7 separate regions of the Homo sapiens genome follow, and all the other regions are reported to be linked to region 1. Evidence: microRNA targets listed by miRTarBase, many of them from high-throughput screens and not tested one by one. Region 1 holds a microRNA gene; each other region holds the end of a gene's coding sequence.
The links. Region 1 holds the annotated microRNA hsa-miR-148b-3p (UCAGUGCAUCACAGAACUUUGU, at 2,511-2,532, shown strand). A microRNA usually pairs through its seed, bases 2 to 8, with sites in the 3' UTR of a target mRNA and lowers its output. Matches are read on the target gene's strand: a 7mer-m8 pairs with bases 2 to 8, a 7mer-A1 pairs with bases 2 to 7 and ends in A, and an 8mer does both.

Region 2: the mRNA of RHAG is a reported target of hsa-miR-148b-3p. The part of its 3' UTR that is shown has no 7-base or 8-base seed match.
Region 3: the mRNA of POU4F3 is a reported target of hsa-miR-148b-3p. Seed matches in the 3' UTR shown: 7mer-m8 at 3,287-3,293.
Region 4: the mRNA of SYNE1 is a reported target of hsa-miR-148b-3p. The part of its 3' UTR that is shown has no 7-base or 8-base seed match.
Region 5: miRTarBase lists RGMA as a target of hsa-miR-148b-3p. Seed matches in the 3' UTR shown: 8mer at 805-812.
Region 6: miRTarBase lists SMARCA1 as a target of hsa-miR-148b-3p. The part of its 3' UTR that is shown has no 7-base or 8-base seed match.
Region 7: miRTarBase lists DPT as a target of hsa-miR-148b-3p. The part of its 3' UTR that is shown has no 7-base or 8-base seed match.

What each region holds. Positions count from the first base shown.
Region 1 is chr12:54,334,768-54,338,834 of GRCh38, forward strand. MIR148B (microRNA 148b) reads left to right here and starts at 2,449; the gene lies at 2,449-2,547. All of the region lies in intron 1 of COPZ1 (coat protein complex I subunit zeta 1), which reads left to right.
Region 2 is chr6:49,602,385-49,606,444 of GRCh38, reverse strand. RHAG (Rh associated glycoprotein) reads left to right here. Exons shown (of 10, transcript NM_000324.3): 10 at 615-1,270. The coding sequence ends at 632. Among named protein-coding and RNA genes, the nearest start is that of RHAG, 32 kb to the left of the region's middle.
Region 3 is chr5:146,340,129-146,344,195 of GRCh38, reverse strand. POU4F3 (POU class 4 homeobox 3) reads right to left here. Exons shown (of 2, transcript NM_002700.3): 2 at 2,468-4,067. The coding sequence ends at 3,752. It overlaps RBM27-POU4F3 (RBM27-POU4F3 readthrough), which reads right to left. Exons shown (of 20, transcript NM_001414499.1): 20 at 2,468-4,067. Among named protein-coding and RNA genes, the nearest start is that of POU4F3, 3.3 kb to the right of the region's middle. RefSeq lists a silencer at 3,373-3,573.
Region 4 is chr6:152,118,667-152,122,733 of GRCh38, forward strand. It overlaps SYNE1 (spectrin repeat containing nuclear envelope protein 1), which reads right to left. Exons shown (of 146, transcript NM_182961.4): 146 at 3,021-4,010. The coding sequence ends at 3,770. It also overlaps a transcript of ESR1 not described here. Among named protein-coding and RNA genes, the nearest start is that of SYNE1-AS1, 260 kb to the right of the region's middle.
Region 5 is chr15:93,041,382-93,045,448 of GRCh38, reverse strand. RGMA (repulsive guidance molecule BMP co-receptor a) reads left to right here. Exons shown (of 4, transcript NM_020211.3): 4 at 1-4,067. The coding sequence ends at 451. Among named protein-coding and RNA genes, the nearest start is that of RGMA, 46 kb to the left of the region's middle.
Region 6 is chrX:129,443,817-129,447,883 of GRCh38, forward strand. SMARCA1 (SNF2 related chromatin remodeling ATPase 1) reads right to left here. Exons shown (of 25, transcript NM_001282874.2): 25 at 2,690-3,417. The coding sequence ends at 3,346. Among named protein-coding and RNA genes, the nearest start is that of SMARCA1, 78 kb to the right of the region's middle.
Region 7 is chr1:168,693,206-168,697,268 of GRCh38, forward strand. It overlaps DPT (dermatopontin), which reads right to left. Exons shown (of 4, transcript NM_001937.5): 4 at 2,263-3,410. The coding sequence ends at 3,344. Among named protein-coding and RNA genes, the nearest start is that of DPT, 34 kb to the right of the region's middle.

The sequences.
Region 1 (4,067 bases):
AATGGCGTGAACCCGGGAGGCAGAGCTTGCAGCGAGCCGAGATCAGACCACTGCACTTCAGCCTGGGCGACAGGGTGAGACTCCGTCTCAAAAAAATAAAAAAATAAATAAAAGTTGGCACAGAGGCCAGGTGCAGTGGCTCACACCTGTAATATTAGCATGTTGGGAGGCCGAGACAGGCAGATTGCCTGAGTTCAGGAGTTCAGGACCAGCCTGGGCAAGATGGTGAAACTCCATCTCTACTAAAATAAAAAAAATCAGCTGGGCATGGTGGCAGTCACCTGTAATCCCAGCTACTGAGGAGGCTGAGACACGAGAATTGCTGGAACCCAGGAGGCGGAGGTTGCAGTGAGCCAAGATTGTGCCACTGCACCCCAGCCTGGACAACAAAGTGAAACAAAGTGAAACTCTGTCAAAAAAAAAAAAAAAAAAGTGTTGGCACAGAGTCAGGAAGTATACCTACTTAGCCATTTGGAGCTGGGAGTGGTATCTAGGAATTTCTCCTTCTAGTTTTTACCTTCTTAGTTTTACTTTATAAACAGGATTGAGACAAGAGAATCTTGTTACAGTTTTTAATTCACCAAGACCCATTGCCACATCAGGGTAATGCCACATCAGGCCCTTTTGGTATGGCCTTAGGGAATGTTTTTTTTTTTTTTGATCTGAAGTCTTGCTCTGTCGCCCAGGCTGGAGTGCAGTGGTGCGATCTCAGCTCACCGCAACCTCTGCCTCCCAGGTATAAGCGATTCTCCTGCCTCAGCCTCCTGAGTAGCTGGGATTACAGGCGTCTGCTACCATGCCTGGCTAAGTTTTGTAATTTTGGTAGAGACAGGGTTTCACCATGTTGGCCAGGCTGGAAGGATTTATTTTTAAGTAGACAATGAAGAACTTTTTAGTGATCTCAGTCAGCTTCTTTTTTTTTTTGAGGCGGTCTCACTCTTTTGTGTAGGCTGGAGTGCAGTAGCGCAATTGTAGCTCACTACAGCCTTGAACTCCCAAGCTCAAGCGATCCTCCTGCCTCAGCTTCCTGAGTAGCTGAGACTACAGGTGCATGCCACCATGCCTGGCTAATTTTTGTTTTTTTTAAGTTCTTGCAGAGACAGGGTCTCACTGTGTTGCCCAGGTTGGTCTTGAACTCCTGGCTCTAGTGATCTCCTGCCTCAGCTTCCAAAAGTGCTAGGATTACAGGCATGAGCCACTGCGCCTGGCCTCCATATTCTTATTTGTGCTCTTTCAGCTCTGTAGATGGCATCCTGTAATTCCCTCCATAGAGGCTTCTTGGTTTTTTCCCCTAAATGAATCAAATAATTCATTATAGTTTCCAAGTATCCTCTCTACCTTCCCCAAACATATTCTCCCAGTCTTCTGGTGGCTTACTAAGATCTTACCCCAAAGAGTTCTCTTACTATATACATTGTGAACAGACTTAATTCACTTATTTTTCAGGGCCCATCTCTACTAGTTTGTCCTACAAGACACACAAATAGAGAGCTTTTGCCGGGTGCGGTGGCTCACGCCTGTAATCCCAGCACTTTGGGAGGCCGAGGCGGGCGGATCACGAGGTCAGGAGATTGAGACCATCCTGGCTACAGTGAAACCCCATCCCTACTAAAAATACAAAAAATTAGCCGGGCATGGTGGCAGGTGCGTGTAGTCCCAGCTACTCGGGAGGCTGAAGCAGGAGAGCTTGAACCAGGAGGCGGAGCTTGCAGTGAGCTGAGATCGTGCCACTGCACTCCAGCCTGGGCGACAGAGCGAGACTCCGTCTCAAAAAAAAAAAAGCTCTTATCCAGAGCTGCCTTTGAAAAATATTTTTGCTTATGACTGTAATCCTGTGGAAGCTGCAGGTCACCGAGAAGGCCCACAGGGGGCAGCACTAGGAATGACTCTTTCCCTCTAGTCCTCTATGCGCTAGGGGAGAGAGTTCTTGGAGATGTTGATGCTTTTCACCAGGCTTTAGAAGCCCCTGATTGAGGCCGGGCACGGTGGCTCACGCCTGTAATCCCAGCACTTTGGGAGGCCGAGGCAGGCAGATCATGAGGTCAGGAGTTCGAGACCAGCCTGGCCAATTTGGTGAAACCCCGTCTCTACTAAAAATACAAAAATTAGCTGGGCATGGGGGTGTGTGCCTGTAGTCCCAGCTACCCGGGAGGCTGAGGCACAAGAATCACTTGAATCCGGGAGGTGGAGGTTGTAGTGAGCGGAGTTTGCTCCACTGCACTCCAGCCTGGGTGACAGAGAGAGACTGTCGCAAAAAAAAAAAAAAAAAAAAAAAAAGAAGCCCCTGAGATCAAAGATTCATTTGCAGCAGCCTAGTTGCTTGTTCTGTGGTGTTTCACCTGTCTTGAGGACAGCATTCTTGTTTTCTTGATAATAAAAACATAAATACATGAAAATCTGTCTAAGTCACCCAATCTCCCACAAAACAATCTGCCTATACATCATTTCCAAGCACGATTAGCATTTGAGGTGAAGTTCTGTTATACACTCAGGCTGTGGCTCTCTGAAAGTCAGTGCATCACAGAACTTTGTCTCGAAAGCTTTCTAGCAGCTACCCATTTTGGGAGTGGGAGGGAAGAATAGACCTTTTAAATTCTTTCAGTGTGGCCCTAAGCTGATAAGGTCTTTCTCAACAGTCAGCATTTAATGTGTTACAAGGTCAAGCCTAGTCCATTGTCCTGGAAGCCCATTTCTCAGTAGCTGGGAGTTATTTATAAACTTGCCCTTTGCAAAAACTTAAAATGAAATTACATTATCAGTAATGACTTCTGGGGCCTTTAAACTGGCTAGTTTTATGGCATAGCCCTCCCCACTCCTGAGAGGTAAAAGCCCCAGGCTGAAGTGGAACCAGCTGCAGTCAGGAGGTGGCAGGAGAAGTAAAGAAGCTGCTGGCTCCAGCTGTAGCAGAATGGAGAATTGAAGCGGCATTTAAGCGCCTGCCTAAATTCTCAGCTTTATTTAGTATGCTTCCTCCTTTGGAAGTTTGAAATGACCAGCCTTTTCTGTAATGCCTTCTTTCCCTTTTGAGAGCTCCAGTAAGCTCTATGTCAAATCTAGTCTTTATCCTTGTCCTCCTTAGCCTGTCTTTTATTCTTCCCAGGAAGATCCAATGTTTCTATTTTTGGGGTTTCTTTGATAATGTCTTCTAGGAAGCCAGTGAAAAGAACCAAGAGCAGAACCCAGGGATATGTTCTCTCTTTGCCGGTGTGGCTGTTGTAGGCACTCACACCCTGTTGGCCACAAAGGACATTGTCTGACTCTCCCAGTTGGCTGGGGGCCATTAGGGCTTTGCTTTTCTTTGGGTTCTAGGGATGCCAAACTCTATGGCTGCAAGAACCAGTTTCCTATGCCAGGTTAATGCCCAGCTTAAACTAATGGGCAGCTCTCTAAAGTTGCTGTGAATGTGGATAGAGGAACAGAGCCAAAGATTTCCAGGAAAAGGTTGTGGGAAAAAATGATTTCGTCTAAATTTTGTTCCTTTTGGACTTCTTTTCTTCCATTAAGAAAACTCATTCCCATTGTTGTCTCCCTTTTGGAATTGAGGACCCAAGTTGTTATAGAACTGAGCCTGCTTTACAGGAAGATCTTTCTGTGAGGAATTAGGAGTTAGGAGAGCTGCTTCTACTTGTGACCTTTTAAGACTAGACTCTAGAGGACTTCCCTCCACTAGGCAACAAAGTTCTTTAGTTTGAGAGAGGAGTTACTCATGCCTTGTTTATTCCAGAGTGTTATATATACAGGATGGACATCTCTAAGGAGTGTTTATCAGAGGAGGGATAAAGTTGGTAGTAATATCACCCAAAGTGGCCACATCAGAAAATCCACTTATATGTGGAGGTCTAATTATAAGTAGTCCCTTAGATGCATACTGCGTCAAGGTATTTTAACTTTATTCTCAAACTTCCTTTATTCTCTGAATTATTCACCAAATATTGAGAGTTTAGTATGTGTCAGGCATTGTTCTGGACAAATGGGACAAACCAGCGAACAAAACAAAAATTGCAGTCCTCAAGAATTCAAGTAGGGAAAGCTTATGTTCCTCATCACCTTGTTGTCAAAAGACTGGG
Region 2 (4,060 bases), not on the chromosome of region 1:
CAGACAGAAAGACAGAAAGACAGAAAGAAAAGAATTTAGTTAGTAAATGTTGTTTCACTCCTCTGAGAGCCATAAAAAGCTATTCGTAAAAATAATATGAATTCTCAGAAATAGTGTGAGATTTTATACCATATATAGTCCACAGGTTTATTTGGTTAAAAACAAAAAACAAAAGAAATTTAACATAATTTTAAACTATGCTATACATAAAAGTAGTCAAAAGCAAGTGAAATATATAAGGTTGAAGAATTTGAGTGAGTACACATCAAGAGGTCCTATGAATAACGAAACATCAGCCTCTTTCTATCCTCCAGTTTCTCTTTACTCTATTGATACTTTTTCCCAAATTATTTCCCGCAAAGCTTGAGAGGGATAGATGTTTGGGTGTTTTCAGCAAAATTTCAGAGAGAATGAGTTTGGAAAAGCGGGAATGTAGTCAGGGTGGGTGAGATAAATGTTTTATTCTTTTATTTTTCTTCAACTCAAACAATTTTTATTCCCAGTTCTTTCCAAGCTTGAATAATAATTACCAAAAATATTTTTGTTTCAATACTAATTTCTGACAAGAACAGTGAAATAAACTATTAAGTGCCCTCAAACTTGTTTTTTTAAAGGTCCCTAAGACGAGATAACTTGACAATCAGTTCCATGGACATGGTGACCACAGCCAGCTGGAACCTGAAGTCTAAACACCATTCCTGCTCTCCAGCTTCCTTTCCCATTATCCAGAATCAAGTCCAAATAAACAAAAAGGGAGTAACCAAAGAGAGTATGGACCAGAGTGAATAGATCCTAAGTCCCAAATGGCCAGTGTAAAAATGTCCTTATGTCTGATGCTGTCTCTTGCTCTTCAATGATTAATTGAGGGGATGTTACTCATAAAACAGATAATCAAATAGATCTTCTCCAGGATTCCCAAAAAGCTTTTGGCAGTGAGTAAATACAGAGTAAACATGTCAGTTTCTTAATGTAGACACTATGTCTTCAATCCCAAAAATTATAAAACTGAAACCCATGAAGCAAGAATAGATGTGAGAAATCTATGTAAAAAAATAATTAAAGAAATGCATGTGTGTAAAGTAGTAATATGATGATTTTAGGTAGTGCTTTTTATTTTAAAAATAGTCTAGTTAGTAATGTTGTATCCTTGCATGAATATTATTCTTAATTCCTTTTGCATGTTGACTATTTGCAACGAGCTCAAATGCTATCTGATCAAAGTCTATTTTGCATAAAATGTCCAATAATTAAATATTGTTATAAAATAAAACATCAGTCTTTGACTCTCCTTTCTTTGGTAGTTGGAATTCATGTCAGTAACAAGCACACAGGTGCACACACACACACTTCATATTTAGTCCACACTCAATTTAAATATTTATCATGTATTTGCTATTTTTAAAAAATCAAGTTAATGTCTCATTATAGAATGTTGTAAAAAGTTAAATTTTAGAAAAGATAACTGACATCGTCAAAAAATCATTTTTAAGAAAATCAAATAACTTATTTTTTCTATCTGGAAGCTTTTAAAGATTTTTCTTCTAGCCTTGGAGTCCTGAAATGTTCCCAAGATGTATCTAGGTATCAACAAGGAAATCAGCCCTACCATAATTAACAGAACACCAGCTTCAGAATGAACTTAAAAATTATAACTAAGAGTGGATTATTTAATATTTTATTCCTTGAAAAAAATTATATAATTTATATTTTATTCATGTATATTACTTGACATAGTTGACTTCTTTTCTTTTATTTTATTTTATATATATAATTTTTATTATACTTTAAGTTCTAGGGTACATGTGCACAACGTGCAGGTTTGTTACATATGTACACATGTGACTTGTTGGTGTGCTGCACCCATTAACTCATCATTTACATTAGGTATATCTCCTAATGCTGTCCCTCCCCCCTCCCCCCACCACACAACAGGCCCCAGTGTGTGATGTTCCCCTTCCTGTGTCCAAGTGTTCTCATTGTTCAATTCCCACCTATGAGTGAGAACATGCGATGTTTGGTGTTTTGTCCTTGCGATAGTTTGCTGAGAATGATGGTTTCCAGCTTCATCCATGTCCCTACAAAGGACATGAACTCATCCTTTTTTATGGCTGCATAGTATTCCATGGTGTATATATGCCACATTTTCTTAATCCAGTCTATCATTGATGGACATTTGGGTTGGTTCCAAGTCTTTGCTATTGTGAATAGTGGTGCAATAAACATACATGTGCATGTGTCTTTATAGCAGCATGATTTACAATCCTTTGGCATATACCCAGTAATAGGATGGCTGGGTCAAATGGTATTTCTAGTTCTAGATCCCTGAGGAATCGCCACACTGTCTTCCACAATGGTTGAACTAGTTTACAGTCCCACCAACAGTGTAAAAGTGTTCCTATTTCTCCACATCCTCTCTAGCACCTGTTCTTTCCTGACTTTTTAATGATCACCATTCTAACTGGTGTGAGATGGCATCTCATTGTGGTTTTGATTTGCATTTCTCTGATGACCAGTGATGATGAGCATTTTTTCATGGGTCTGTTGGCTGCATAAATGTCTTCTTTTGAGAAGTGTCTGTTCATATCCTTTGCCCACTTGTTGATGGGGTTATTTGTTTTTTTCTTGTAAATTTGTTTAAGTTCTTTGTAGATTCTGGATATTAGCCCTTTGTCAGATGAGTAGATTGCAAAAATTTTCTCCCATTCTGTAGGTTGCCTGTTCATTCTGATGGTAGTTTCTTTTGCTGTGCAGGAGCTCTTTAGTTTAATTAGATCCCATTTGTCAATTTTGTCTTTTGTTGCCATTGCTTTTGGTGTTTTAGACATGAAGTCCTTGCCCATGCCTATGTCCTGAATGGTATTGCCTAGGTATTCTTCTGGGGTTTTTAAGGTTTTAGGTCTAACATTTAAGTCTTTAATCCATCTTGAATTAATTTTTGTGTAAGGTGTAAGGAAGGGATCCAGTTTCAGCTTTCTACATATGGCTAGCCAGTTTTCCCAGCACCATTTATTAAATAGGGAATCCTTTCCCCATTTCTTGCTTTTGTCAGGTTTGTCAAAGATCAGATGGTTGTAGATGTGTGGTATTATTTCTGAGGGCTCTGTTCTGTTCCGTTGGTCTATATCTCTGTTTTGGTACAAGTACCATGCTGTTTTGGTTACTATAGCCTTGTAGTATAGTTTGAAGTCAGGTAGTGTGATGCCTCCAGCTTTGTTCTTTTCGCTTAGGATTGACTTGGCAATGGGGGCTCTTTTTTGGTTCCATATGAACTTCAAAGTGTTTTTTTCGAGTTCTGTGAAGAAAGTCATTGGTAGCTTGATGGGGATGGCATTGAATCTAAAAATTACCTTGGGCAGCATGGGATTTTCACGATATTGATTATTCCTACCCATGAGCATGGAATGTTCTTCCATTTGTTTGTATCCTCTTTTATTTCGTTGAGCAGTGGTTTGTAGTTCTCCTTGAAGAGGTCCTTCACATCCCTTGTAAGTTGGATTCCTAGGTATTTTATTCTCTCTGTAGCAATTGTGAATGGGAGTTCACTCATGATTTGGCTCTCTGTTTGTCTGTTATTGGTGTATAAGAATGCTTTTGATTTTTGCACATTGATTTTGTATCCTGAGACTTTGCTGAAGTTGCTTATCAGCTTAAGGAGATTTTGGGCTGAGACAATGGGGTTTTCTAGATATACAATCATGTCATCTGCAAACAGGGACAATTTGACTTCCTCTTTTCCTAATTGAATACCCTTTATTTCTTTCTCCTGCCTGATTGACCTGGCCAGAACTTCCAACACTATTTTGAATAGGAGTGGTGAGAGAGGGCATCCCTGTCTTGTGCCACTTTTCAGAGGGAATGCTTCCAGTTTTTGTCCATTCAGTATGATATTGGCTGTGGGTATGTCATAAATAGCTCCTATTATTTTGAGATATGTCCCATCAATACCTAATTTATTGAAAGTTTTTAGCATGAAGGGCTGTTGAATTTTGTCAAAGGCCTTTTCTGCATCTAGTGAGATAATCATGTGGTTTTTGTCGTTGGTTCTGTTTATATGCTGGAT
Region 3 (4,067 bases), not on the chromosome of region 1:
CTGGCTACCTTGAATGAAAGCCTGTGATGCAGACCACCGCCTTGCCCCGATCCCCATTCCCAGGGAGACTTGCCTATCCCTGATGGCTCTGTTCCTCCCTACAGTCCCTTGAATCCAGAGGGGATTCGGCTGGAAGGGGTGCTTTCATTTTACAAAACAAAAACCTAATTCATTCATTCAACAGACATCTAGTGTCTGCCACTCTAGGCCAGACCTTGAGCAGAGTGCTGGACATGAAGTAGTGAACAAAACTGAGACTACTTAGGCACACAGAGAGGAAGTCGCTGGCCAGAGATAACACCGTTCAGGAGCCCAGGACTCCTGCCACCAAGTTCTGCCTACCAGGGCTTTAGTCATGCTGGAATGTGTATGCCTAGCTCATTCTAGATGAAGCCCCTGTTCCAGCCAGGTAGTTCTCAAAGTCCCACCCTCCGGAGGCCCGATGCAGGTTTCCATGCAAACACCCCCAAATACTGACTTCACTTTCTCTTGGTACAAGTTAAAGAAACTCTCAGCTGAGTCTTGGACCGTACGTGTTGCAAGCTGACAGAATTAGGAAAATGAAAACCTGCTCCAGGTGATCTTAGGAAACACCCTCAATTACTCTTCAAAATAAATTTGGGGAAGTTTTACAGCTGGCAGCAGAGGCTTAGAGAGGCGATATGACTTGTCCAAGGTCACACGGTTCGGATGCATACTAGCCTTGTGTAAACCCCAGACCTGCTAGTACCACCTCCCCTCCCCCGAGAGGTCTGTGCCTCCGCCAGACGAGTGGCAAAGGCGACTACACAATCCTGGGGAAACCACATCTCCAGTTGCTTCCTGAAGCAAGCCGAAGAGTGAGGCGACGGCGCCGTTCCGGCGCACTCAGGAGGAGGGAAAGGGTGGAGCGCTTCGCTGACCGGGCTGCAGCTCCGGCCTGCACGTAGGAACTGGTGAAAATACTCCTGCGCATCACCGTCTCAGGCGCCTGAAGAAGACTAGGCTCAGAGGCATGGCTCGGAGACTGGACCTAGTGCTACTGGACCGTCTTGGAGCAGACCTTGCGCTCAGGAGGCAGCTCCTCTCATCCTCTCCGTAAAAGTCTCCCAAACTTTTGCAGTTGTCAATTAAAAGAAAAAAAAAGACTAAATAAATAACGGCAGAGAACTTTTCGAAAAGAGGATGGAGGCAGATTTCCGGTTCTCTCCAGAGCCCGAACATGCGAAGGCTCTTCTTACCTGCAGGAAACCTTGCAGCCCGCAAAAGCGCGTCCTTCTGGAGCGCTTCGCTTCGGCGCGGGACGCTCACGGTTGTCTCCTCTGCAGCCCGGCTGGGCTCCTGCCCTGTGTTTTATACCACTATAGGCAATTAATATTGCATCAGCCGTATTTTAAATTTTCAAAACCCACAATATAATGTAATGGCATAAGGGCATTTATTATTAAAGGACACCCGATGGAGAGGGAGGTGGAGGAATCGCTGGGGCTGTTGTGCAAGGCGGGGGTAAAGGGCTGAGGCCCAGGGAGCTGGGGGAGATCCGCAAGTTAGCTTATGCGGTAGGGGGTGTCGCACTGCGCGGAGGGCAAACCCACTCTGCTCCGAATTTCGGCCCCGTGGTTTGATGACCCGCAACTCTTTGAGGACGAAGCAGGGAAATGTGCAGATGACTCCTGGACTTGGAGCATTAAATTTTAAATCAGGAAGGCGTTTCTACAGCTCGCAAATAAAAAGAGGGAGCGTAAAGAGAACAGGGAGCTGGCGTCTATGGAGCACCTACTATGTACAGGGCACTATGCTAGGCGCTTTGCAGCAGTTATAGCAGTACCCCCACAAAGAAGCCGAGGTGGACCCCAGAGTGAATAACAACCTGGATGAGAATTTCAGATGAATTTGGAACTCTGAGTGGGTCCCACTAGAGTGTCCCAGCGAACACTTTTCTCCCTCTTTGCCTCTATTATTTCACCTCCTTTCAAGCCCTTTGAATCTTTTAAAATAATTTGTTGCCTACAAAACCCAAGCACTAGTTGACGTCTTAAATAAACAATCTCACCTAGTCCTGACAATAACCTTGTGAAATAAGCGTTGGTCCCTTCATTCTGCAGACAAGCAATCTTGTTGGAGAAGGCTTAGAGAAATTAAGAAATTAGCCTCAGGATGGTTCTGCCAGTGAGCAGAGGCATTGGAGGCTCGAATTTCTATTAGTCCGGCTTCAAAGTTTACTAGCTAAGTCAAATTGAGCAGAGTCTCATGATGGCAGGCAGGGAAGCATGGAAGGAAGTGCCTTGAAACCTCAAGTTCAGACACAAGCCGCAGGGTCTCCCACGAGGAGCTCCAAGTGAGTCTGCCATGGAAGAGGAGTGGGGAGAAGGGATGGCTGGGGGCTGGGCAGCAGAAACTGACAGCCCAACCCTTTGGGGTTCTCCTTTTTAAATCCTTTTCAAAGCTAGTACCCCTTAGCCTCTGAGAAAAAATAAAACCACTTTGATTCGGGTTGAAAAATAAAGCATTTATTTTAGAAGTTAATTCAAGGGGTAAAGGGAAAAGAAAACTTAATATTTTATTTGTATCTATTCAGAGAATGAAACCAAAGGTCACACAGCAACACACAAACTACATGAAACAACGAAAAAATAAAATAAAATTTGGGCTAGAGGGGCAGGGTGAGAAGGGTTCAGGCCCATGGTCCCACTCCTCTTCCCTCACAAAACTATAAGTGAACTTCCACCGAAAGACACCCACATAAAGGGAATGGAAAGAAGCAGAATTAAATAAATAATAGTAATGAACGATGTTAACAACAACAGTAATAACAAAAGTGCAAGGAGGTTAGACGTGTTGAAAGGACTTGCATATAATGCAGAGAAGTTACAGTCGTTTTCCAGCAGCCGACTGCACGCTGAGCTGGCAATCTGGCAAGAGCAGCGAGCTGGGGTCAGAGAGTCCTCAACGGTTATGAATACTACAAACTCCCGCTCTCCAGCAAGCAGTAATTACCCCTCAAACACCAGTAGGTAGTGAAAGATGGCCAGAGCTGGTGCTGGCAGCTGATTACAAACAGCCAAGCGATCCCAGAATTTTCAGTCGCCAGACTGGGCCCACCTGTTTTGGAGCCCTACTTACCACGAAAAAATGGCAACTTGGAGCCCGCAACTCCCTGCATACTTTCCCTGAACCTAATCTTCATGCTACCTTATGAGAATTTACGCCAAACCAAAGGATAAGGTGAATAGAATTTAGGCAAGGAAGGGAGTATAAGGCTATCCTTTGGAAACATACATGTATTTTATATACTCTAATAAATCTCCAGTGCATGTTTGTGTCCCCCTTAGATATCCTAGACTTTGTGTTATTATTGATCACTTCCTTTTTATCCCTTCACCCTTTGCCTAATCGCGCTTAGCAAAGTGGCATTTTCACCCTAGCTTCGGGCGGTTGGGCCAATTGACTGTCCTCTGCTTTGGGGCTCCTGCTCTGAAGTCGTGCGGCCCCTGCGCGAGGGCAAATTTCAGCACCACGGACAGCACAAGTACACTCAGGCCCGCCCTTCTGCAATATTTTCCCAGCGCCAAAATTTTTTTGGTGGGAATAGAAAGGAAAGAGAGAGAAGGCCGGAGGCAACCAGGCGGGACAAAGGGGGAAAGTCTGTGGCTTCGGAGGAGAGAGCCTAACCTGCCTAGGAAACGCCTTGGAGTTCCCGATAACCATCCCCCGAACCCGGGAGGGATGAGCACTAGGCTCTCCCGGCTCCCGACGCTGCGCCCTGCCGCAATCAGTGGACAGCCGAATACTTCATTCGTTTCTGTTTCTGTCTCTGGTTGCAGAACCAGACTCTCACCACGTTCTTTTTAAGGTCCAGTTTCTCAGCGATGGCCGCGATCTTCTCAGATGAAGGACGTGGCTGGATAGCGAAATAGGCCTCGAGTGAACGCTTCTCCGGCGCCGCGATGGACGTGCGTTTGCGCTTCCGTTCGCTGCCGTTGAAGAGCTCTGGCTTGCTGTTCTTCTCTCGGTAGGCGGCCTCGGCCTCCTCCAACCAGGCCTGGAGCACCGGCTTGAGAGCGATCATGTTGTTGTGCGAGAGAGTG
Region 4 (4,067 bases), not on the chromosome of region 1:
GGGCTTAAAACCTAGATGATGGGTTGATAGGTGCAGCAAACCACCATGGCACATGTATACCTGTGTAACAAACCTGCACGTTCAGTACATGTATCCCAGAACCTAAAGTAAAATAAAAAATAAAAATAAAACAAACAAACACAAGAACTTCTGAGGTCCTCCCCGAGAGGACTCCCCGAGGGAGCTTGGAGCAGTTCCTGCCACATAGTGGGCATTCAGTGAACTACTTGAGAGATTAATGTCTGTTGCTCTCCCCAGGCACTTCTGGACCTATCTGGTACACACTCAGGATATTTCAATTTCTCCACAATCCCCTGTGAAGGTTTGGCGATGGTGCTGGTGAATTGGTTGCACCGAACAAGGAACCTGTCCACTGGGCTGCTTTCAGGCAGCCCAGACCAGCCCTGGGAGGCCCGGCTTTTCTGGACACGATTAGCTTTCATAAATCATCTCTCTCCACTATTCTTTGCTTTACGATCTTTTATGTGGTTTGTCAATTAAGTTTTGTAGCTATAATGTCTTAATATTTGGCCCTGGGGTGTAGGCTATCAATCAATCTACTCTAACCTGCATTTTTATAGTAAATCTCAGGCCTCGGCATGTTGAATTTCCCATCTGGGCCTTCAGAAGTCTTCTCTTCTCACTTCTTACAAAAACAAGAGAAGCTACTGTGGGTCCATTTTCCAGGAGGGACATTCCTGCTCCTCAGCCATCATTTCCCAAAAAATCCTTTCATTTCTCCCGGGATTTCTTATTAAGTTACTACTTTTAGATTCTAATGCCTTATTTTTCCATGTTAGCTATATTGGATTCTTTGTTCACTTTTCTAATATTTCCCATTTGCTTGTGCAAATCTCCTTACCACCATGTTATTAACCCTTCCCTTCCCATCCTTCCTGGTCAGTGGATGGTCTCTTTATGCCCTTCCTCACCCAGCACTCACTTGGGACACCATTCCCTCTCTCCAGGCCACAGCAGGGCTCCTGACTGTCCTCACTGCAGAAATGGAAGCTTCTTCAGCAGCCATCAGTGTCCTTTTATCTCCTTACTATTCTTTAAACCATCCCACATCCCTTCCATGAAGCTTTTTCTCTCTGTTGCCAGAGCAACCGCTGGGTGCGGGTGAGGATGCTCATGGCCCCATACCCATCTCCCCATCATCTGCGTCTGGCGTGGCCCTTGCTAAATTGGCCAATCAATCATCTGGGGAAGAGCCACGACCTCATGGGTTCAATGTTTGCACTCACCAGGGTTCCCTACTTCTTCGAAGGTTCTGTTGTTTAAATCTTCAAAAATGTAATGGAAATGGATGTTCTACACCCCTTTGGGGGTTTCACAGGGTTTTGAGAAAGGCACAGATGGAATGTATGCTAAGATTTTTCTTAATTGAAACCAAATGTTTTTCTCAGCAACATTTGCCATTTGATTCTTCAGTGACGGGAGATGCCTAGGAGGAAGTCAGTTGACAGTGATGTGGAGAAGAAATGCTTCTGAAGTCTCTTTGCGCTTGCCTTTTCCACGATGACACTCTTCATTGTGTGGGATTTCCATACCCCCTGAAGGGCAAAACTGCTCTGGAGGGAGGACTTCTCCTTCCAGATATCGGGAGGAGTGACAGGAAAGTGAGGGAAGAGCGAGGCCTGAAGAGTGCTCCATCTCAGATGAGGGTGCAGGGCACCCTTCAACGCCAATGGCCACCGCTGCTCACAGCCTCTCCAGAAGCGGGAAGATGGGACACTTTAACCACGAGGTGGTCTTCTCTATAAAATAACAGTGGGCGGGGGGCGATCCATCGTGTTCCCTGTGGAACACGATGGGTTCATGGGCCATAAGATACAGACAATCTGACGGCAAGAAGCCGAGTAGTAGAGAGAAGTCTTAAATACAGTGTGAAAGTGATCAGGAAATTTTTCAAGAAGGAGGTGGCTTGTGAGCTGAGTCCTGTGGGGCAGGCAAGGAGGAATGAAGTTAAGGAAGCAGAGGGCAGTGCTTTTCAGCAGTTAGGAGGAATAAAGTCTCCTCAGGCATCTCTTTAAAATGCCGGCTCCCAGGCCCCATCCCAGAGGTTGAACTAGGAGGTCTGAAGCAAGCCCGGGACTTGGAAAATCTAGCAAACCCCAGGAACCCTAGTTGAGATGGACTCAGACTACCTGCATTATGGAAAGCACAGACGGCAGTTTCAGGCAAGGTGAAGGGCCTCAGTTTGGTTTAAATACTCAATTTAGAGCAGGATTTGTAAACTTAAATACCTCTGGGGCTAGGGTGACACAGACCTTGAGAGAAGTTGAAGGTTTACAAGTACAAAGAGGAGATACTCTCTCTCTCTCCCCCAATTCTGGAAGGGACAGCAGCCAACAAGCTCCGGCAATTACTGCCATGCAGGAATATGTGCTCCGGACTAGGGCACCAGAGCTGTCTACCAGAAGAGAAGCCAGAGACCTGAGTTTTATGTGCCCCAGAATTATTAAATGATACATTAAAATGCCACGAGCATCACATAATTCCATGAAGTCCACTATAGTAGGCAAGTTCAGAGGAGCAAAATAAAATCTCATTGCATATGGACTTAAATGATAGAAGAAAACTGTATTTTATCCGGTAGACAATGAACAATAGAAGGCTTTGCAGCAAAGAAGGAATCTGAACAGAAGTGTGCTTTAAGAAGATTTCTGTGGCTGTTGTCTGCTCGCAATGGAATGGAGAAGGGACCTCAGATATCAGCTCCTAGGAAGCCTCTCCCATGTGCAAAAGGAATGGAGAATAGAGGATGAAAGGTTTCCGGAAACAAGAATTCAGGAGATTTGATTGACTATGGAAGGAAGAGAAAAAAAGGAATCACCTGGGGTCTTCTATGTCTAAATCCATGCTGCCTCTTGCCATCCTTTTCCTTTAATATACACTAATGTTCCAGCTTCATTCATTGCACAGAAAAATGATCATTTAGGTTGCATTCTGATCAGTGCCTGCTTAATAATGAAACTTAGAGTTATTTGTTTAGGGAAAAAAAAGCACAGACAAACTATTTTATAATATCTATAATAAATGCAAAGAAATCAATACAAACAAAACTTGGCTTTAGCAAACTGTACATACATAAATATCTTTTTTTTTTTACTATAACATTCAACTTTTTTCACATAAAGCCTTCCATGATCTTATTTATTACATCTAGTTTTTCTTTATACCTCTAAAAAAAAGTGCCTTTTAGATTTACAGCTTGTGCTTCTAAAGCAAAGGTTAAAACATCATGCCCCAAAGGAAAACAAGGTAAAAAGGAAGCTGCCATATAAGCTCTTAAAAATTGTATGTTACAAGGTTCTAAAATCTCTTCAGCACTGGTTGGTTGGTAGATTGTACGACACTGACATGGTGCTTGGGAGGGTCATTTATCTGATGGTTGGAGCAGCACCATGGGAAAGCTGCCCAGATGGTCTACTGAAGTCCTTGGCTGTGCACAGAATGGGCCAAGGGCCCAGAATTCATGAGTCCGGGGAACTTTGGAGGTCCTTACTCAATCTCCTTAGTGCTAAGGTTCAGAGTCTCAAACCAGATTTCTTCCAAACCTTCTTGTTGTCTGTTTGTTCCCCCGTCACTGTTTATCTTCCACCTCTGAAGCCATAATTTGCACACATGTGATCTGGAGGAGGGCTAAAGCTGCCACACCGAGGGCTTTCGCCAAGATCAAGGTCCTCTTGTTGGTAGTTTGGGATTGCTTATGACCCGATCCTCCTTATGCTACCAGCACTTCTGCAGATGGCATCTGCTTAGTTCAGAGTGGAGGAGGGCCATTCGTGTATCTGAGCATGGGGTGGAATGACCGGGCAAAGTTGTTGGAGAGGGCACAGCTGTAGTCTTCCTCTGACATTGGTACAAGGCAGGCAAGCCCGATGAGGAGGAGCAGGAGAAGCTGAAGGGGAAGAGCTGCTCGGAGGACTCTGAACAGGAAGCCGCGGCCGGACCGACCTGGCCCTGGCTCAGAAAGGGAGGAATCGGAGCCACCTTTTGTGGACCTGAGAGAAGAATGGACATAAATTACTCAGATAACTCCAGTGTCGGAGGGACGCTGC
Region 5 (4,067 bases), not on the chromosome of region 1:
CAATGCTGTGGAGGACTGGGACAGCCAGGGTCTCTACCTCTGCCTGCGGGGCTGCCCCCTCAACCAGCAGATCGACTTCCAGGCCTTCCACACCAATGCTGAGGGCACCGGTGCCCGCAGGCTGGCAGCCGCCAGCCCTGCACCCACAGCCCCCGAGACCTTCCCATACGAGACAGCCGTGGCCAAGTGCAAGGAGAAGCTGCCGGTGGAGGACCTGTACTACCAGGCCTGCGTCTTCGACCTCCTCACCACGGGCGACGTGAACTTCACACTGGCCGCCTACTACGCGTTGGAGGATGTCAAGATGCTCCACTCCAACAAAGACAAACTGCACCTGTATGAGAGGACTCGGGACCTGCCAGGCAGGGCGGCTGCGGGGCTGCCCCTGGCCCCCCGGCCCCTCCTGGGCGCCCTCGTCCCGCTCCTGGCCCTGCTCCCTGTGTTCTGCTAGACGCGTAGATGTGGAGGGAGGCGCGGGCTCCGTCCTCTCGGCTTCCCCATGTGTGGGCTGGGACCGCCCACGGGGTGCAGATCTCCTGGCGTGTCCACCATGGCCCCGCAGAACGCCAGGGACCGCCTGCTGCCAAGGGCTCAGGCACGGACCCCTCCCCTTCTAGTGCACGTGACAAGGTTGTGGTGACTGGTGCCATGATGTTTGACAGTAGAGCTGTGTGAGAGGGAGAGCAGCTCCCCTCGCCCCGCCCCTGCAGTGTGAATGTGTGAAACATCCCCTCAGGCTGAAGCCCCCCACCCCCACCAGAGACACACTGGGAACCGTCAGAGTCAGCTCCTTCCCCCTCGCAATGCACTGAAAGGCCCGGCCGACTGCTGCTCGCCGATCCGTGGGGCCCCCTGTGCCCGCCACACGCACGCACACACTCTTACACGAGAGCACACTCGATCCCCCTAGGCCAGCGGGGACACCCCAGCCACACAGGGAGGCATCCTTGGGGCTTGGCCCCAGGCAGGGCAACCCCGGGGCGCTGCTTGGCACCTTAGCAGACTGCTGGAACCTTTTGGCCAGTAGGTCGTGCCCGCCTGGTGCCTTCTGGCCTGTGGCCTCCCTGCCCATGTTCACCTGGCTGCTGTGGGTACCAGTGCAGGTCCCGGTTTTCAGGCACCTGCTCAGCTGCCCGTCTCTGGCCTGGGCCCCTGCCCCTTCCACCCTGTGCTTAGAAAGTCGAAGTGCTTGGTTCTAAATGTCTAAACAGAGAAGAGATCCTTGACTTCTGTTCCTCTCTCTCCTGCAGATGCAAGAGCTCCTGGGCAGGGGTGCCTGGGCCCCAGGGTGTGGCAGGAGACCCAGTGGATGGGGCCAGCTGGCCTGCCCTGATCCTCTGCTTCCTCCTCACAACCCCAAGAGCCCCCAGCCCGGTCCATCCACGTCTGGAGTCTGGGGAGAGGAGCAGGGTCTTAGGACTCTCAGCTCTGAGCATCCCTGGCAGGGTCTTCAACCTCTAATCTCTTCCCTTAAGCCCTGTGGCCACACAGCCAGGAGAGACTTGCCGCTGGCTCCCGCCTCATTTCAGCCCAGGGTGCTCATCCAGGGGCCCAGAACAGTCCCACCTGTGCTGCTGTGCCCACAGCACAAAGCCAGGCTTCACTCCCAAAAGTGCAGCCAGGCCCTGGAGGGTGATCCTGCCAGCAGCCCTACAGCTCCACACCCTACCCACCCATCGGCAGCCCCTCTGCTGTTCCCCAGGGACCTCTCATACACTGGCCAGGAGGCTGCAGAACGTGTGTCTCCCCCTCCCTCCAAGAGGTCCTGCTCCCTCTGCCAGAACCGTGTGTGGGCGGGTGGGAGGGCGCTCGGGGCCCGGCCCCTCCCTCTCCCTGCTGGTTTTAGTTGGTCCCTATGTTGGAAGTAAAAAGTGAAGCACTTTATTTTGGTTGTGTTTGCTCACGTTCTGCTTGGAAGTGGGGACCCCTCACTGCGTCCACGTGTCTGCGACCTGTGTGGAGTGTCACCGCGTGTACATACTGTAAATTATTTATTAATGGCTAAATGCAAGTAAAGTTTGGTTTTTTTGTTATTTTCTTTTAGACGTGTTGGAGTTTGTTTTCTGAACAGACTTTGGCTCCCTTGAGGCGGGTGGAGGATGGACTTTGGTGGTGGGATCCCCTGCAGCAAGTGTGTGTGTGTGCGCGCATGTGTGTGTGCGCGCATGTGTGTATGCATGCCTGTGTGTGTGCGTGCCTGTGTGCGTGCATGTACGCATGTGTGCGCATGCCTGTGTGTGCGCCCATGCCTATGTGTGTGCATGTAGGCATGTGTGTGCGCATGTGTATGTGCGTGAGAATGGTGTGAAGGCGGATAGAAGATGCAGCAGTTTAACAGCCACCACACATTGCTTTTGTAAAGTCACTTTTCCTCCTCACGATGAGCTGTCTTTGGAGCTTGGCAGGCCCAGATCCTCTTGTTCTAGTGACAGTGGAACACAGTCAGGGAGACAGGTGACTATGTGGTGGAGAGACATATGGTGCCCTCTGGGATGAGATGGGTGGGATAGCCTGAGATCTGGGATGACTCCCTCTCAGCCACTGCTATCAGCCTGGAGCCCCAGCTGTTGGGACTGCCTGCCACCCTCCCTGCCAGTGCCCATCTTCTCATAGCCCGGGCGGAGCAGTGGTGCTGCAGGAGGCTGCTGTCCACGTCACTGTGGGACCAGGTTTATTGGCAGCTGTGATCACATTTCATCTGTACAAACTACCCAGTGAATCAGGAAGAAATTCAGGCCCATTTTGCCGATGAAACAGACTCTGAGATTAACTGACTTGCCTAGGGCTCCTTAGCAACGGGAAGGACAACCTGTGCACCTAGGTTAGTATTGTCCTGAAGCCCCTTCTCTTCAAACTAAATGCCATGAGGCAGAATAGCAGCACAGTTAAGCCAGCCTACATCCTGGCTTCTCCACCTCCCCAGCAGTGTGACCATGGGCAAGTCACTTCACCTCTCTGAGCCTGCATGCTGTTCTCTGGAAGATGGGGGGGTGCCTGTCCCATACAGTTGTTTGGAGAGTCAGGAGTTCATTCCTGTAAATTGCTTAGGAGAGGGCGGGGCACACATGGCTTGTCTGGTCGTGGGGAGGGAGGGGGTGGTATTATCCCAAAGCAAGATAAATCAGTTAAGGGGAGAAGGAAAGGGGCGATACAGACCCTGGACTCTTGGGAGAGGTGAACCTGCAGGCTAGCAAGGGGAGGAGTCCCAAGAGTGGCCAAGTTCATTAATCCCAGGCAGACCAGGAAGGCTGAAGAAAAAGGAGAACTTTATTTTATTTTTGAAATGGAGTCTGGCGTCTTGCTCTGTCGCCAGGCTGGAGTGCAGTGGCACCATCCCAGCTCACTGCAGCCCCTGCCTCCCAGGTTCAAGCAATTCTCCTGCCTCAGCCTCCCAAGTAGCTGGGACTACAGGCACACACCACCACGCCTGGCTAATTTTTTGTATTTTAGTAGAGATGGTGTTTCACCATGTTGACCAGTATGGTCTTGATCTCCTGACCTCGTGATCCGCCTGCCTTGGCCTCCCAAAGTGTTGGGATTACAGGCGTGAGCCACCACCGTGCCCGGCCAAAAAAGGAGAACGTTCTAAAGCCCTGTTCTTGCAGGGCTCCCAGAGAGAACACGGGAGTTGGGTTTGGGAGGCAGGAACCAGACTGGAAAGGACAAAACGTACCCAGCATCTTCCCTGGCGGCCGGAACCGTCACTACAGGCCCCGTGCCCTTAGCAGTCCCAGGGACAGAGCGACTCAGGGAGGCAGCAAGGAGGAGCGGAGCCATTGGTGCTCGTCCGGCACAGAGAACAGTTCCTGAGAAGCCAGGGCACACAGAAGAAAAAGAAAAAAGAAATCTCTACTAGACGAAAATGCTAAATGGCACTAGCCACAAAGTATTCTTGGTTTGGAATTTTTTTTCCAGGACCCTAAATGTAACCGGCTGGAATTCTTTCCCAAGTGCCATGCTACTTACTACTGGTTGCCCTCACGAGCATGGAAATGCCGTCGTGAATATGGAACACAGCATCCTGAGCTAAAAGATTCCCAAGAAGCAGCTTCATCTTGCAGGACGGG
Region 6 (4,067 bases), not on the chromosome of region 1:
TTTCAAACCAAACAGCCAGCAACTAAGATAGCTGCAAATATTTTAGTTCAAAAACTTCTCTTAACTGGGAGTCTTAGACGAAGAACCAAATTTGGAAACATATTTCACGAGAAAACTGTGTAATCTGAAAAGTATCCAAGTATAGCATAACACCTGTAGGCCAGGTAGCCAGAGAAAAAGATAGAACTATACAATAAAGCCATACCAACGGCTACGATGAAAACAAGAGATTACTGAGCTCACCACCTGCCTTCTTTTGATTCTAAGGAAATTAGAGCCTGATTAGCCAATGAATCAAGACAGAGCTTTACAAGGACCTCTGTGGAAGATCTAGGGTTGTTGGGAAATCCCATTCACCCCTTATCTTTTACAGATAGAGGCCTTGAGTGAAGGAAGCCACTCAGGGTCTCTGTTTCTCTGCTCACTTTCCTCCTTGTACATTTTCCAAACAAGGAATCAGGTTGGGTCAGATTCCAATGTAATCCACTGGACCATTTTTGCTGGTGGGCAGAGTCATTATGCTTTATAAGACTGCATTCACATATATAGCACTCTCTTCTGCTTCCTCTGGCCTCCACGGAGCTGATACAGTAAACTGACAATCCAGGTTTCTCTCCCCAACATAGCAGCCATGTCTAGACCACTTGTTTGAAATGGTATTTCCTTCTTGGGATTTTTACATTTTCAATGGGAGTTTAATTTCTCTGTAGAAATTTAACAATAAGAGGGGTTTCATATTCAGACTTGAGGCATTTTTGTACTTCCAAGATGCTATTATTTGGACTAAGCTATCATCTGGTATTCACTGTATGGGTCTGTTTGGTAGGCTAGGTTCAACAGTGTAGCTATACATACTTTAAGATGAGAAGTAGAATAGGTGAATTTTTCACTAAATATATAGTGTGGTCTTTAAGTTAAGTCCTGAATAAAACTATTTCACAAGTTTCTAAGGATGACATCAGAAGCATCCATTGAAGGCCTTGGGGAGCTGAATTTCACATCACTTTGGTCCAAGAAAGACTCATAACAGCCATGATATGGAACAGGGAAATGACTCCATGAAAAGGCTACAAGAACTTACCTGCAGATTTTCTCCCCTAAGGTAGAGAATCACATATTAGCTCAGCTACTGAACCCTTTGGATTACCAGAGAAAGAATGAGAAGTAGAGATTGTTAAATGTCCATGCTGGGGTTCAAAGACCGTAACTGTGCCCACTCCCACCTGCCATCTTCTCTGCTCCCTAGGAAAAGAAAGGCTGAATTGACTGATCAGAGTCCAGACCCTCATTAGGCTGTTTTCTACTGCACAGAACTTGGGGTTATCAGTAAAACTCCCTGGTATCATTTTCTCCAGCGCAGATGACTAACTATAGCTATTCATATCATTGGAGTGGAAAATTCCAAGGTTAGATTTTGGGCTGAAGAGCTCTGGAGTTTGCAGCCAAAGCACCAGCTAGTGAAGTATTACTTTGCTCACCTTAGCCTCCCTTTCTTACAGAAAAGGCAGCTAAGCCAAGGACAGATTTGGGTATCCCTGGGTCCCCTGATATAATATCGTCCCAACCTTGTCTCTTAATAGAACCCCAATTTTACCCCAACCCCCAACAGGGTACAAGAGTCTAAGTGCTAATAGTGGAAACAGAAAAAATAATCCAACCAGAAACATGGCAGTAAGAGATATAAAATCTGGACAATGAATGGAGACTTAGAAGAGTCCAACAGACAGTGGGTTGTTGTTCTAGAAGATCTATTCCTCTGTTGGAGAACTTCTATGAAAAGATTGAGGATGTGAAGAATGCTGACTAACACTCAGGGGCTACCCAGAATTTGCTAGTAGTGCACTAAAAAGAGTCTGATAGGAAATGCAAAAGATCTTGGAAGGGGGAAGAGACAACTCTTTAGTGGTCCAGACCTTGTTTTGGTAACTAACATCATTATCCTGCATTCTCAGCTTTACTTATTGGTTGTGTATTTCACACTAGATTTTGATCCATTTTCCCTGCTGTCTTACAACCTGACCCAGATTCTGATTAATTCCACACTAAAAGTTTCATGTAATAGACCCAGTTTCGTTCCTGAACTGACAGTCTCTGTGACAGAGGCAGTAATGTAAGACGTTCCATTTATTCCCCTACATCTGCCAGCCCTCTTTCAGGTATATAGGACCACATGACTACTTTGGTGGCAATGAAATATAAGTGGATGTGACATGTGTCACTTCTAGGCCGAGGCAGTAAAGAGCCTAAGTGCCACATGTTCCAGATGTTGCAGCCACAAAATAGCAGAGCCTTAGTCATCCTGGAACCTTGAGTTACCGTGTGGAGCAGATCCCTTCCCATTCCCACATCCCTCTGACCTGCATGAGATATGTAGTGTGAGCAAGAAAAAAAAACTCTTGGTGTGTAAAACCTCTGACACTTTGAGATTGTTACCTGAGCATAACTGTATTCCTGACAAACACAGCCCCCCTTCTTCTGCATACATAGTGCTTATTTCATACTCTAAACTTAATTGTTAATAATTCTACATGTTACACCCAGGCCCTTCTGAACTGGCTCTATGGGACAGAAGATCACACACAAGTCAGCAAGCAAAGCTTTAACTTTGAACCAAATACACAGTAGTAAGCAATACAATTCAGTAAACACAACTACTTTCTACTGCACAAAAAAACAGGAAATAATTAAATTTCTTATAGACATTTCTTTATTATATTTTCCCACTTGAATAGAGAATAATTTAAATGTAATGCATACTGACAGCAAGCACAGTATCAAATATTAGCTTTTTTAATATTTTTCTTTCCTCACCCTTTATTCCTTTAGGAAAAAAATATTTAGATGACCTCAAAGAAACAATTATTATGCTAATCACAGTATGCAGTAACACAAACAAGCCCAGACTCAATAGAAAAGAAAGCAACAAAGAAGTGAAAAAGTCTTTCTCCTCAAAACATTTTAATTCGTTTTTCCACAGCCATATAAATTTAAAGTATGAAACAACAATAATACAACTATAGAATCTAGGTTCTCTTTCAAAGCAGCGGCATATAAAACATAGAAAAGCTAAAACCTCAGCACAAGCTTCAAAAGAACAAGGACTGAGAGGATTTTGATGAAGACATGAAATGCACAAAATACAGTACACAAAAATACTAGAATGCCATAAAATATAAAGCTACACATTTCAGGTAGAAAGCATTGTAAAATATATAAAATATGCAAGAAATCAAAACCAAAGAGATTTTTCTTAGAGTACCATGAATACACTGGAACTGGCAATTAGCATTTGAAGATGGGAACAAGAAAATAGCAGTTTCCCATTTAAAACTTTATTTCTAGGCTTTAGGATTTCACCTTCTTGACATCCTTCTTTCCAGAGCTCTCAGTAGCTGACTCTGCTTTTCTTTTCTGTGACTAAAATGGAAACAGATTTAATGTTCTGCTCCAATATGCACATTTTAAATGGCCCAACAATGTTAAATCTAGGATGTAAATGCATTAAAAAAAAATTTTAACATGAATATTCACTTAAATGTTATATTCACAGTTAATGTTCTATATAGCCCAACAAACTATATAACCCAATGTAAAATAACCTTCAAAGATGTTTCTTTTTATGAAAAGACATAAAATACCCATCAAAAATAGTCATCAAGTATCTACTTACACATGGTATTATAAATGTACTCTTATCTTAAAGAACTACTTAATGTTTTCTGGGCAAAATTTTGTTTATGAGTATATATTTTTTAAAAAACTTATGATAGGTTTTAACATACCATATTTCATATCTTCTATGATACACATTTCTTTCACATTTTAGCATCTCTGAAATCAGGATGCAACTTACAACTGATGACAAATTACACCTGGCAGCATTTTCCCTCAGTGGTACATAAAATAATGCTGTGTCTTACAATGGAAGGCATCTTAGATTCGATGAAATATGGCAGTTTACTTAACCACACTCAAATAATACGATCTATTAAAGAATATTTTAAATTACAGCTGTACAAAGCAACCTGACTGGATTAAAATCAAGTTATCCTATCAATTCAACAGTT
Region 7 (4,063 bases), not on the chromosome of region 1:
CTTCCATAATATCATTTCCATTGCCTTAAATTCTACCATCCCCTTTCCTATCCTGACCTCTCACCGCCTTCTATTGAAATGCCGCCTGCCCTTGACTTATCAAACTGTACTGTCACGGTTTGTTTGCTTGACTAACTCCTTTAGTTTATAATTCTCCAGAATGCAGGAACTGTGCCTAGTAAAATGGTTGGTATATAATAAACACTTGATAATTTATTGATTCAGTTACTGAGCAAATGTAAGTGGGACTTAAGTTTGCTTGATAAATGTTTCCTATTATTGACGTTTACTAAAATCCGGCTTACCTAAGGAATTTTATTTCCAATATATACTGACACTGTTTTCCTTCTCTGACTACATTTATTGGGTACTTATTATATGCAAGACACTATGTGATCTCATTTAATTCTTACAGTAACCCTGTGTTGTAAGTACTATATTTCTACAGGTAAGGAAATAGAGTCTCAGGAAAGGTAGGTGACGTGGCCAAGGTCATAAAGCTGGGAAGTGACAGGACCATGATTTGTGTCCAGGAAGTCTGACGCCAGAGCTTACAGTCTTTTCTACTCACCTCAGAAGTCCTACTTGTCCTTCAGGGCCAAGCATAGACTCGGCTTCCTCAGGAAACTTTCTTGCAGTTATTGTCATCATCTATCTTCTCATCTCACCATTAGGCTGAAGGCCTTGTGAGGCAGGAATCATGTATCTCCTCTTTCTATTATCTCATTGTATGTGGCCAGCATCTTGTAAAGTTGTTTAGAAAGGAATTCCTACCTGTACTGGGCAGATGAGGGGAAGGGGGCTTGGGGATTTCTCTAATCTTACACAGCCACCCTCTGTCAGAGCCAGCGGTAGGCCCTAGGTTATCATCTTTAGTTCCAGGCTCCTTTCCTGGAAGAAAATGCCTTAGAAAATCCCTTTATAAACAATTCAGGAGGTGATAGAGTTCAGAGATTCTTAGAATTGCGAGAAACCACAATGGTTACCTAGATAAATGTCCTCATTTTAAACAGTAGGCCTAGAAAGGAGAGGTGACTTATCCAAGACTGTGGAGCAAGTTAGTAGAAAGTTTGGAGTAATGAAAAAACAGAGAACAAAACTTGCAGTTACCAGATCTGGGATTTAGTATTCACTCTGACACTTAGTTCTTATTGAAAGACCTATAACATAAAGTATAATTATTCAGATTCAAACCAAGTTGACAATGTCTTTTCTGTCATTGTCCTTGGCCTATCTACGTGCAAATAATAGTTTTCTTCTTAGTAGAAACTCCTTTTATTCCACTTGGCACAGGCACTATTTATTGAATTGCTTTAAAGAAGTTTTTTTTCTTGACTTATGTCCTCTTGCAGTCTCCTGGCTACTCCCAGCTGCAGCCTCTCCTCCCCCAGCCATGCTCCCTGCACCCTCCCAGCTCCCCATCCTCTCACCAGCCATTTGCTTTCTTCATGGATGCCAAGTCAGCCAATCAGCATTGCTTGTCTCCTTTCCTGCTGTGCTCCACATACCCAACTAAGGCTATTTCCTGGTTTCCATCCTGAACCAGGCTGAAATTGCTAAAATATTAATGGCTCCCTTTGTGAAAAATAACACCGAAGCATCTTATTATAAATTAAAATTGCCAGAGAGTCAGAAACAATGACATGGAGGAAATAAAGCAAAGCTCTAATATGAAAAAGTGTTTTAGGAGTTAAGGCAGGAGAAGATATCCTTAGCCCTGCCTTCCCCATCACAATGCTGGGATCTTGCCGTGGGAAATACCATCACCACTGGCTGAGAGTCACCTTCTTGACCACCTAGAGGGGGTGTATGGCAAGGTACGCGATCCCTGTGGTTTTGCCTGGCTGGCTCTTCTTCTGGGTCCACTGGGAGAGAGGATGAGGGAAGAGCAGCATGGATCAGAAAAAAAAAAAAAAGGCAATCTGCTGTGGATAAAGAAAAGAGGGACTTCCTGTGGTTAAAAATTCATGTGACATCTTGGGATGAGGAAGGTTGAAGGATGCTGAGAAAAGATTAGGCTGAACTCAAAGGCCAAGAAATGTGATTCCTTCCTTTGTTTAATCTTAAGTAAAGCATTTAGCACTTTATGTCTTAAATATCTGATTCCCCCACCACACTCTGTCATTGTCATCATTTTATTCCTGGGGTCTGCATGGTGCTTGGCACAAACCACAATGCTAACCAGGATTTTCAGAATGAATGGATAAATAATCAGCAAGGGAAAGAGTAGAGAGCAAAAACTGACCCTGAATATTTTCAGCATAGTGAACGTTAATATTTTTATTTCTTTTGTAATGAAGAGTACAAATGGTTGGGAGCAGGACATCACAGGAGGAGGAAAGATAGCGCCATCTCTGCAGAAGAACTCCTGAGCCACACACAGAAGGAAAGTTGATCCCCAGGGCAGCCTTTCCCACCAAAAAAATCAGGCCCAATCCAGGAGAGTTTGCCAGTAGCTCCCCAGGGTTCCAGGGTGTCTGCCAGCCTTCCTAGGAATCGTGGGCAGGCTTCTAGGTGCCAGTGACTCAAACTCCTTTTTCCACTTCCCAGTTCAACCTGGTCACTCTCATCCCCACAAGTTCCCAATCTGAATCCCATTCTCTGACCATTCTCTGCTTCCTTGTTTTTAATCTCATTTGAGAGTGATCCTCACGGGTTCCCCTGGCCCCTGCACTCATTTTCCTTACTGGGTATGCTAACGTTTGTCTTCTAATTCAGGAAATCCTTCCAACCCTGTTTTCAGCTCTGCCTCCAAACCCTTCCATTTCCCCATTTCACCTCCCAGTCTCCTCACTCCTGGAGCAAAGAGCTCTGCACTTGGATTGCTAAGCATGCATGGCTCATGTGGAGCAGGGGAGTGGGAAGATGTCCCTCAGGGCAGAAAGCCTGCTTTTGGTGGGGAACCTACGTATCATTCAAACAGGCTTAGCTGTAGAGAACCTTCACTGCACCTCTCCTCCAGTTCTGCCTCTCCCCTCCACTATGCTGAACTTGCAGTTCATTCTGCAGTAAAAAGCAGTAGCCAGGCTGCAGCTGGTGCTCCAGAAGCCCGGCTGTAAGCATGCGCACTGTATATGTGGTGTGCAAGGAAGCCATCATCAGTCATATAAAGCAGTTGCTATGAAACATGTGAAAAGTGAGAAACATGGTTTAATTGTGGATTTTATTAGAAGTGTGATACTAGTCAGAAAGGCCCAGGAAGTTGGCATTGCAGTTACCAGCTCAGGGAGAAGGAAAGAGAGCAGCAGAAACTTCTATAGGAGATCCAACTGATGTTAACATATGTGGACACCCTCCTGTCCCCGGCCCCTTTCCTTTCACCCAGATTTGGTATGTGGCAAATCTAAACATTTGCAAATTCACAGTCGTATTCAGTCATCCGGCACATTATGAACTTCCACTGGCGATCCCTGTGGGAGGGAGAGTCAGAAAATGAATGTCAGTGAGAAAGGACATGGCAGGAAGAATCGCTGCTGGGGAAACAGCAGCAGAGAACATTTGGAGGATCTGGGAACTGAAGGGACACTTAATCTCACTTTGCTCTTAGAAGACATCTTTATGCAGTTTCCCAAGAACCGACAAATCTGTGAGTTCAGGTCACCCTTGAAGGTGACTAATTAGGTCACTGGCTGTGTGGAGGCCTCTGTTCATCACTGGTGGTCAGCTCACCCCTGCTGCCTCCAGAAAGTACCTCAAGGACCTGTGGGTTAACAGCTTGGAATAAAAGCATTTATTTAACATCATCTCCATTTCATTGTAAAGAATCTTGTTTTAGGCTGGGCTTGGTAGCTAACACCTGCAATCCTAGCATTTTGGGAGGCTGAGGCAGGTGGATTGCTTGAGGCTAGGAGTTTGAGACCAGTCTGGCCAATATGTGGAAACCCTGACTCCACAAAAAAATACAAAAAATTAGCTGGGTGTGGTGGTGCATGCCTGTAGTCCCAGCTACTTGGGAGGCTGAGGTGGGAGGATTGCTGGAGTCCGGGAGGTTGAAGCTGCAGTGAACCGAGATGGTGCCACTGCACTCCAGCCTGGGTGACAGAGTGAAACCCTGTCTCAAAAA